Regions from separate parts of the Homo sapiens genome. Here region 2 is linked to region 1. The links come from fine-mapping of genetic effects on gene expression. A gene starts in region 1. The other region holds a variant in brackets. All regions are shown on one strand. Distances are from middle to middle. Region 1 holds the start of DHDDS (dehydrodolichyl diphosphate synthase subunit). Region 2 overlaps RPS6KA1 (ribosomal protein S6 kinase A1).

What was found. PIP is the estimated chance that this variant, and not a neighbour inherited with it, causes the effect.
Region 2: its variant is the best candidate, but not a certain one, in a credible set for the expression of DHDDS in lung (GTEx, PIP 0.70).

The regions. Positions count from the first base shown.
Region 1 is chr1:26,430,162-26,435,531 of GRCh38, reverse strand. DHDDS (dehydrodolichyl diphosphate synthase subunit) reads right to left here and starts at 3,211. Exons shown (of 9, transcript NM_205861.3): 1 at 3,156-3,211; 2 at 2,524-2,641. The coding sequence starts at 2,586. It overlaps LOC124903883 (a long non-coding RNA gene), which reads left to right and starts at 3,295. Exons shown (of 2, transcript XR_007065557.1): 1 at 3,295-3,559; 2 at 4,414-4,777. RefSeq lists enhancers at 2,892-3,381, 2,919-3,455, 3,482-3,541, 3,612-3,671, 3,456-3,992 and 1 more.
Region 2 is chr1:26,569,266-26,574,567 of GRCh38, reverse strand. RPS6KA1 (ribosomal protein S6 kinase A1) reads right to left here. Exons shown (of 22, transcript NM_002953.4): 18 at 2,958-3,119; 19 at 2,643-2,719; 20 at 2,275-2,392; 21 at 1,207-1,344; 22 at 1-489. The coding sequence ends at 367. Among named protein-coding and RNA genes, the nearest start is that of MIR1976, 17 kb to the right of the region's middle. The variant T/C (reference allele first, on the strand shown) is at 2,917.

The DNA.
Region 1 (5,370 bases):
CGGGAGGCAGAGGTTGCAGTGAGCCGAGATAGCACCACTGCACTCCAGCCTGGGTGACAGAGTAAGACTCTGTCTCAAAAAAAAAAAAAAAAAAAAAAAAAGGCACTAATTCCTGACCTCTAGCCAACTGCTGACACACAGGAACTGGGGCACAACATTGCTGGATCTGGTGATCTTGCAAGAAAACCAAACATCAGGATTTTTATTAAAATTTTGCTTTTCAGCCGGGCGCAGTGGCTCATGCCTGTAATCCCAGCACTTTGGGAGGCCGAGGCGGGTGGATCACGAGGTCAGGAGTTTAAGACCAGCCTGGCCAAAATGGTGAAACCCTGTCTCTACTAAAAATAAAGAAAAATTAGCCGGGCGTGGTGGCGAGCGCCTGTAATCCCAGCTACTCGGGAGGCTGAGGCAGGAGAATTGTTTGAACCGGGGAGGCAGAGGGTACAGTGAGCTGAGATTGTGCCACTGCACTCCAGCCTGGGCGACAGAGTGAGACTCTGTCTGAAAAAAAAAAATTGTTTTTCAAAGCAAACAAAAAAGACTTTTTTTGAGCCAAACAAAACTTACTTGGGGCCGGACGTGGTGGCTCAAGCCTGTAATCCCAGTACTTTAGGAGGCTGAGGTGGGCAGATCACTTGAGGCCAGGAGTTCGAGACCAGCCTGGCCAACATGGTGAAACCCCAACTCTACTAAAAAAAAAAAAAAAAAAAATTAGCCAGGCATGGTGGCCGGTGCCTATAATCCCAGCTACTTGGGGAGGCTGAGGTGGGAGAATCGCTTGAACCCAGGAGACAGAGGTTGCAGTAAGCCAAGACTGCACCACTGCACTCTAGCCTGGGCAACAGAGTAAGACTGCATCTCAAAAAAGAAACCACAAAAAACAAAACCCTTATTTGGCTTGGAGCAGCTTTGAGTTGTCTCCCATAACACAAATGGACTCCTTAGCCTATTTTTCCTCACCTGGGAGGGCTCTTCCCTGACTGCTTCCTCATCAACACTTCTCCTTTTTCTACTTCTGTCTCACATACAGCCTTTCCAGCCCCCAAAATCCATTCAAGTTATGCAGCTTGTTCTTCCAAACATACCACTGCAGTGGTTCCCCAAGGAGATACTTCCCATTTCCTGGACTGCTTGAGATCACTTGGCATTTGTTTGTGAGCATGTGTGGGGCTTGTATAAAGGTTACTGACTCATAAATTCATTACTACCTGCTGCTTGACAGCCTGTGGTTGAAAAACAAAACCAAGCTGACTGGCCCCAATCTCAAACCTGTCTTAGGCAGATATAATATTGCTGTGATTCCTAGAGAAAAAGCTGAGGGAAGATTTGGGGAAGATAGGAGATAATAGTCTTCAAATGTCTGAAAGACAATCCTAATAATAATTAAGAACTGCTAGACATTATGCTAACTGCTTTATATTAATGTCTCATAAATTCTCATGATAATTCTACAGTTGTTAAAGTCACATGATTACTAAATGATAGAACTGGACTTTCAGGCCAGGTGCAGTGGCTCAGTCCTATAATCCCAGCACTTTGGGAGGCTGAGATAGGTGGATCACCTGAGGTCAGGAGTTCGAGACCAGCCTGGCCAATATGAGAATCCCATCTCTACTAAAAATATAAAAATTAGCCATGTGTGGTAGCATATGCCTGTAACCCCAGCTACTTGGGAGGCTAAGGCAAGAGAATTGCTTGAACTTGGCAGATGAAGGTTGCAGTAAGCCAAGATTGCGCCATTGCACTCCAGCCTGGGCGACAGAGCGAGACTCCATCTCAAAATAAAAAAAAGAACAGGAATTTCACCCATGTTTGTCTGCGTCTAGAGCCCAAACTCTTTTTTTTTTTTTTTTTTTGAGACAGAGTCTTGTTCTGAACTCTTTTTTTTGAGACAGTCCCGTTCTGTCACCCAGGCTGGAGTGTGGTGGCACAATCATGACTCACTGCAGCTTTGACCTGGGCTCAAGAAATTCTCCCACTTCAGCCTTCCGAGTAGCTGGGACTACAGGTGCACACCACCAAGCCCTGCTATTTTTTTAATTTTTTGGAGAATCGGGGTTTTGCCATGTTGCCCAGGCTGGTCTCAACTCCTGAGCTCAAACAATCTGCCCACCTCAGCCTCCCAAATTGCTGGGATTACAGGCGTGAGTGACCGGGCCCAGCTCTACTGACAGATCAAAGAATATATCAAAGATTAACCTATTTAAATCAAGAAGACAGTACATGGAACAATGGATCAATGTTCCAGGGAAACAAATTTCAGTTCTCTATAAAGAATACTTAGCAGTCTAGGCTGCCCAGTGACATTAAGAGGCCTGGGCTTCCAGAAAATATCAGAGTTAGGACAAAAGTCTACCAGAAATGTAGACCTGGAAGTTACCATTCTAAGACTCTTTGGTTTCCTTGCTAAATTCCACTTAACATCATGAATTGCACTTAACATCATCAACTTTAATAACAGGTTTTTATATAAGATTATCCAACTGACCAGAAGGCCAACCGGTGCTCTGGGCCATTGCTCACCTTTATGATGTTGGCACAGAACCGCTCCCAAAGTGACAGCTCTCCTTCCTTGATCCATGACATAGTTCTTTTCCAGTCAGAAGATCACTCCAGAACAAGCAAACACCAGCCAGGTAATCTTGGATAAACAAGAAAGAAAATAAGAAGTCACCAAGGTTTGCGAAGAGCTATAACTGACTTCTGGGGAATCAGATGGACTATGGAGAGCAGCCAGCATTAGAATCCAAAGACACTGGTCTAAGCCTATAATCTTTTACCACCCAGAGTTTTATAACGCAATGTGACCTCTGGAGGCAAAAGCCTTTCCTCGGTTCTCCTGGCTTTGCAGACTTCTTCCCATTCCCATTTCCTCCGTATCTGCACTGACTTCTTCTGAACATCTAAGTCGGTTTCCTGCCACATCATGGTGCCCACATCTTGATCATTCCCCGTTTCTTCCTTCTCCATCTTCCCCTAAGCTGTTTCCAACTCTGTGCTCCCAGTTACTAACTCCTTCAGTTATCGCACGCCTAGTACTTCACGCCTCAGTGGTCTCCTGATTATTCCCTCAGTCGTCCCTTTGCTTCTCCCGCAGCTGCTCCCCGCCCAGTCACCCTCTTCTCCTCTAGTTCACCCCTTCAGTTCAGTGGCACCTGATTAGCTCCGCTGGGCGCGTCCCCACGGCTTCAGTGGGCCGGCACTTCCTCATGACGTGGCGCTGGCAGAACACGTCATCTTTGGGCGCTGCGACACGCCCCTTCCGTCACCCAAACTGAGGGGACCCTGCCCTGCGCCTGCGCCTGCGAGCTAGTGGGAGGGCGGTTCTCAGTCCCGCGGGGTGTGGAAGCCGGCGCGGGTGAGAGCCAGGCTCACGTGACCGAGCGGGGCGGGAGGCTGGGCTCCAGGCCACGTGCTGGGAGACCAGCTGGGGAAGACAGGGTTGAGCCCAGCGTTGGGAGCGGAGGCGTCTGGAAAACGCGCCAGGGAAATGAGCCAGGGGCAAGAATCGAGGCGCTTCTCGGCCGTCGAAGGCAGCTTAGGACTGCTGAGAGACTGGGTAAGGCAGCGTCCTTACCTTGGAATGCCGCAGAACCGGGCTTCATTAGAGCACTGGTGCATACTCTTAAAAATTATCTCGTTACCGTTTCGTATTTTATTTAGTGGATTTAATCGTCTGGGAAGGAGTTTCTAGCCGCAGCCAATCTTACAGACGCGCAGAATATTAATCTATTTTGTGCCGACTTAAGGCACGCATATTTTAGGATTTGTGGATTCCCAAGACCTATCCCAACGAACTCAAGAGAAGGGGTAAGGCCAGAAAGATTTCTGCCATAAGAATGACTTCTAGGCCAGGCGCGGTGGCTCACGCCTGTAATCCCAGCACTTTGGGAGGCCGAGGCGAACGGATCACCTGAGGTCAGGAGTTTGAGACCAGCCTGACCAACATCGTGAAACCCCGTCTGTACTAAAAATACAGAAAATGAGCCGGGCGTGGTGGCGGGCGCCTGTTATCCCAGTTACTCGGGAGGGTGAGGCAAGAGAATCGCTTGAACCCGGGAGGCGGAGGTTGCGGTGAGCCAAGATCAGGCCACTGCACTCCAGCCTGGGCAACAGGAGCGAAACTCTGTCTGAAAAAAGAAAAAAAAAAAAAGCATGACTTCTAAAATAACAGAAAGGTGCTCGCTTTGGCAGTACATAAATGAAAATAACAGAAATTAACCCTGGTAGAAAAGTTAAGGGCATTAGCTCTACTGAACCTTTACGAAAAAAAGGGTTGCAAGAATTCTAGGCTCACAAAACAAATTTGTAGTTCAATTTTCTCAAAATTGAAAGAGGAGGAAAAAATTCTTTACAGATTCTTATACAACCAGTATTATTTTTATTTATTTATTTATTTATTTATTTATTTAGAGACGGAGTCTGGCTATGTCGCCCAGGCTGGAGTGCAGTGGCGCGATCTCGGCTCACTGCAGCCTCCGCCTCCCGGGTTCAAGCGTTTCTCCTGCTTCATCCTCCTGAGTAGCTGGGACTACAGGCGCGTGCCACCAAGCCTGGCTAATTTTTGTATTTTTAGTAGAGACAGGGTTTCACCATTTTGGCCAGGATGGTTTTGATCTCTTGACCTCGTTATCTGCCTGCCTAGACCTTCCAAAGTGCTGGAATTACAGGCGTGAGCCACCGCGCCCGGCCACAACCAGTATTTCTTGCAAAGCATAATACAACTTTATGTAGTATTATGTTTTGAGTGGAATAAAAATTCACAATTGTCAAAGAACCTTTTTGTCGCATTTCATTTTACAATATTATTAAAGAAATGAGGCAAGGAAGAGATGTTTTATTGGCACTTTCTAATTGATTATGTCTTCCACTCTTTCTAATGAAAGGGGTTATTTTAACACAGCAACATGATGAAAGAAAGCCCTAGAGATGAGTAGAAATGAATAGTGTTGAGCTTTTCCATCCTTCCTGCTTTGCAGCCTGGGGAGTAAATTTCAGTCCAAGTTACTTCATTTTGCAGCAAGACAATTTAATGAAGTCCACTAGTAGTTTGCTGCTTCATGAGGTTCTACTGTCAGCTTTGACTTTTGGTACAATTAAGGAGCCACAAAGTCCCTGGAGTAGATTATGAAACTTCTTACCCTTACTCTTATAATGTCAGGCTTGAGGATTTAAACCAGTTTCCCTGTTTCCTTGCACGGTGTTAATATACTTGGTTTGCCTCCAATCAAGTTTTTTTTTTTTCCTTTTTAAAATCCTCCTTCCCTTAGTGGGAATAGATGTTTAAAATTCAGTGTTCTTGCTTGATGACTTGTGATGTATATAAAAAAACTCGATGTTCATTAAAAAGCTAGCAAACTTTGGCTCAAA
Region 2 (5,302 bases), 140 kb before region 1:
CTCTAAAGAGTCTCAGAGAGCCCCAGCGTGACTCAGTTCCCCTCCTGGGGCCGCAATGGCTGTTTCTGCTCCCAGAAAGGCAAATGGATCTTGTAAAAATCCATGGTGGTTGATGCCATTTTTTTCATAAAAAAAAGTTTATACAGTGAATCGCTTTCCACCAGCAGAGCCTGAGCCGAGAAGAGTCCATCCTGGGGAAGGAGAAGGCACTTCTCACACCCTCATTAGGGGTGTTCTGGGCTGGCAGCTTCCCCGGCCCCTCGGGTTCCAGCTCCCTCTGGCCCTGTGGTTCCGGCCTGCTCCCTCTGGGAAGCATGCTGACTGTGTCAAGCTAGCACCGCCCTGTGGCCCGAATGCCCTGGTGCCTCACAGGGTGGTGGATGGCAACTTCCTCACTCGCCGCTGGGCCAGGATGGATGACTCGATGGGCTTCAGCTGGGGGGTGGGCTTGGAGCTGTTGAGTGCGGAGTACGTGGCAGCCATGGCTCCCTGAAAGAGAAGTGGGGAGGTCAGGTCACAATGGTGGGAGATGTAGCGGGGAGGGGATCCATGCCCCAAGGGTAGGCCAGCCCCTCTCAGTGTTCCACAGCCCACTTTTTTTGGTTTTGTTTTTGTTGTTTTTTTTTTTTTGAGATACAGTCTCACTCTGTCACCCAGGCTGGAACGCAATGGCACAATCTTGGCTCACTGCAACCTCTGCCCCCAGGGTTCAAGCGATTCTCCTGTCTCAGCCTCCCAAATGGCTGGGATTACAGGCGCTTGCCACCACACCTGGCTAATTTTTGTATTTTTAGTAGAGATGGGGTTTCACCATCTTGGTCAGGCTGGTCTTGAACTCCTGACCTCGTGATCCACCCACCTCAGCCTCCCAAAGTGCTGGGATTACAGGTGTGAGCCACCGCGCCCAGCCTAGCCCACTGTTAATCCAGCCTCAGTGGTCCTTTATGGTCATGGGTCCTGCCTCCCCCATCAGACTGGAGGGTTCAGAGGTCAGCAGCTGTGCCTTCCAGAGGATTGGGGGCTGTGAGTGCACCGTGACACTGTAGCATGTTAGGCTCCCTGACGGCAGGGCTGTGTCTTCTTCTCCTATGTTCCACCTCATGGTGCTTGGTACAGACATGGCATTGCCTGGCTCTTCCACAAGTCCCTGACCATGCCACCTTGGGCTGACCCCCCAGATGCCCAGCAGCCCAAGGGTGGCCATACCTTCACAAGCTGTAGGTCCTGGTGGGACAGCTGGCTTTGGGGAAGCTTGTCTTTCTGGGTGACCCATGGATGCTGCAGAACCTGCTTAGCTGTGAGGCGCTGGTGGGGATCCACGTGTAGCATCTTGGACACCAGGTCCTGGGGACACAGTGGGCAAGGGGGTTGGGGGAGGGCTGCAGGGGAGCAGGCCCCTGATGGGGCACAGGAGGGCAACCATCTCCTGCTAGCTCCCGCCTGAACCCTTGCGGCAGCCCCTGGGATCCATTCTCCACTCTGCTCCAGGGCTCCCCGCACACAGCCAAGGTTCCTGTCGCTGGGCCTTTGCTGCTCTAGGCCCTTCGTCCTGGAACACCCTTCCATTTCTCCTTTGCCTTCAAAAAGCCATGTGGGAAGGTGGGAAAAGCCTCAGGTTTGGGCTCAGACAGATTCAGGTTCAAAACTTGCCTTCTGCACTCATCAAATGAGTGCCCTGGGCAAGTTCCTTCAACTCTCTGAGCCTCAGTTTCCCTGCTGAGAAATAGGAATAACCACTCCCTGCCTCACAGGTTGATGTGAGGTGGCCGGCCGTACATAGAGGGTTCAACTCTGTCTGGCATACAGGTTCCCAATGACCAAAAACTGTTGCTAATACTGAAAGCTCACATGCTACTTCCTCCGAGGAGGCTCTGCTTGGCATGGCCAGTTGCTCTGCTCTGTGTCTCCACGGTCCACACCCCTGGCCAAGAGCGTCCGCCTATCTGTGCCTCCAGGCATCTCTGCCCCTTGTGTGCAAACCTGTATCCCTCACTACACTACGTTTCCACAAAGCCGGGACTGTGATGATGCAGCCCTCAGTGCCCCACAGGGTCCAGAATGAGAAGGGCCAATGAATGATCACCAGGTTACCCCAACAAGGTACGGAGGTGGTGGTGGTCTGCCTGGGAATCTTCCGCTTGGAGAAATACAGCAACAGGGATTTGTGGAACATCCGCTTGGAGAAATGAGGCTGTTCATGAACTGCTGAAAAGCCCTAGGATGGGACCCTGCCTCCCTCCTCCAAATAAGCCCACGCAGGCCGTACAGACTCACCTTGGCTGTCTCTGAAACTGTGTTCCAATTTCCCCCACTGAGGGTAAACTTCCCACTGCCGATCCGGGTTAGGATTTCCTCTGGTGTGTCACTGGGACCGTTGGCAAATGGAGTATATCTGCAGAAAAGCCCGCACGGTCTGGGTACAGACTCTGGCCTCCATACTGGGGCTGGGGCTGCGGTGGGAGACTGTGTCTCCCCCTCAGATGGGGTACTCCCAAGGTAGAGCTCCTGGAGGCAGGAGCATGTCCCTATTTCCAGACCATCCTGGGGCGGGGCTGGCTGAGCCATTCCTATCAGACAAGCACCACTCAGCCCAAGTGCTAGGGCTGCAGGAGTGGGGAAGGGTCCAGGCCAGGGGCACTCACCCTGCCAGCATGGTGTACAGCAGAATGCCCAGGCTCCAGATGTCGCAGCCTTCATCGTAGCCCTGGCGCTTCAGCACCTGGCAACAGGGCAGGGGAGGTGGTCAGTCTGGGGGGGCAGTAGAAAGTCGCCACAGATGTTTCCTGCTACTCCCCTCAAGGGCAGGACAAGGGTCCCAGGCACAGGCTAGATCTTCCCTTGCCAGCTGGGCCAAGGTCACAGAGACTGGAGTCCCGGCTAATGTGGGGCCTCTGGGAGGGGGCACAAGGCCTCCAA[T/C]TCCCCCTCACTCTTACAGCTGAGGAGGCTGGGCCACTCACCTCAGGCGCCACAAAGTTGGCTGTGTAGCAAGGTGTCATGAGGAGCCCATTCTCAGCCCGCAGCTGTTTGGCAAAACCAAAGTCACAGATGCGCAGGCACTCGGGATTCCCGGACTCGTCCACATACAGGATGTTGCTGGGCTTCAGGTCCCTGTGCACAACCTAGGGGCAGGGGGCTGGGGTCAGTTCTCAGTGTGGGGAGGTGGCTAGTGGCCCAGGTCAGCGGCCAGAGATTAGAAAGCTACACAGACAGGGTGCAGAGGGACGGGTGCATGGACTTGGCATCCGAGAGAAGGGGAAGGGGCTGAAATGATGGTCTTATTGCTGCTGCTACTGACTCTGTGTAGGTGTCTACAGGTAGCTCTAAGTTAACCTGTCAAAACTGAACTCTCAATTCTCCCCTAAAACCTACTCATCACATAATCTTACCTTGTGGCAACTCCATCCTTCCTGTTACTTAGGTCAAAATCTTAAAAGTCTTTTTTTTTTGAGATGGAGTCTTCCTCTGTCACCCAGGCTGGAGTGCAGTGGCACGACCTCAGATCACTGCAGCCTCCGCCTCCCGGGTTCAAGCAATTCTCCTGCCTCAGCTCCCAAGTAGCTGGGATTACAGGCACCCGCCGCCATGGCTGGCTGATTTTTGTATTTTTAGTAGAGATGGGGTTTCACCATGTTGGTCAGGCTGGTCTCAAACTCCTGACCTCAAGTGATCTGCCTGCCTCGGCCTCCCAAAGTGCTGGGATTACAGGCGTGAGCCACCACGCCTGGCCCTATTTTCCTTATCTTTAAAATCAAAGAATACACTGCTTTACTTTTATCTGTAGCACTTCCCACTACTTAACATAATATTTAATTTGTTTTCTGAGTCTGCCCACCGGCATGTAAGCTCCCTGAGTGTTTTGCTCACTGCTGTATCCCAGCACTTAAACTAGCTCCTAGTACATGGCAGGTATTCAATAAATATCTGTTGAATGAATGGATGAATGACACTTACTGCTGAGGCCATAAGCAAACGGCTTTCCTCTGGGCCCTGTTTGCTCATCTGTAACTTGAGGGGGCTGAACCACCCCACATTTCATTCTTCTCCTCCCCACACTCTGTAAGGCTTTTTTGTTTTGTTTTGTTTTGAGACAGGGTCTGTGTTGCCCAGGCTGGAGTACAGCAGCATGATTCATGGCTCACTGCAGCCTCAATCTCTGAGCTCAAGTGATCCTCCCACCTCGACCTCGCAAGCAGCTGGGACTAGAGGCATGTGCCACCATACCCAGCTAATTTTTAAAACATTTTTTGCAGAGACAGGGTCTCGCTATGTTGCCCAGGCTGCTCTTGAACCCCTGGGCTCAAGTGATCCTCCTGCCTGGGCCTCTCAAAGTGCTGGGATTAAAGGTGTGAGTAACTGTGCCTGGCCTGTACAGTTCCATTCATAGTCAATCCTCTAACTATCAACTACCAATACCTCTCAGATCTCTAACCCTAGTCCAGAACTTTTCCTGAGTCTTGGCTCATAAATCCAACTGCCTACCACAAGGCAACCACTGGATGTTCCACAGAGCCTCAAACTCAACACATCCCACACTAAACTCCTCATGTTCTCATCTTCCTGCTCCTCCTCCCCTAAGCTAATGGAACCTCCCTGGGCATTGTCAAAAAACCTTCAAAGGCTCCCTACCTGCAAGATAAAGCCCAAAGTCCCTACCCTAACATGGGAGGCACAGCCATCATCTGTTCCAGCCTCACTGTCCATTGCATCCCTCAGGTGCCCTGAGCTCAGGCCACCAGGGGCTCCTTCGGTAACGATCATAACCCTATGTCTGTGGAATGCCCGTTCACCTTCAGCACCCAGTGCAGGGCCTAGCACAGAGCAAATGCTAAGTGAACTTTGTGCAATGAATGAACAAATCACACCTCTGAAACACAGAGACAGATACCTTGCAGGTTAGATTAGTAGAGTTTTGCAGGTTAGTTGGTTTTATTCAGATAGTCTTTTCATAGTCTCAGTTGATCTCCAAGCCCTCCAGCAATGCCCGTGGAGCCCGTGGAGTAGGTAGACATGGCCCAGCACAGTCCACCTCCATAGGGAGAAGAGTGCCAGGTAGATGAGGGGGAAAGGGCCACACTGTTAGGGTAGCCCCAGCAACACACTGTATCCAAGCCTTGGAGAAAGTCCCGTGGGCTCCCTCCTTCAAACACAATCGTATGCCCACAGCACAAGGCCAGGCCCCCAGGAATGTGGACTCTACCTAGAGGTCAGGGATGCTCAGCTTGGCTGAGGACACCAACTACCCTGCACAAGTGAACTTCCAGTTTACAAAGAATGTTACCAGTCGTGATCTCACTGGAGCCAT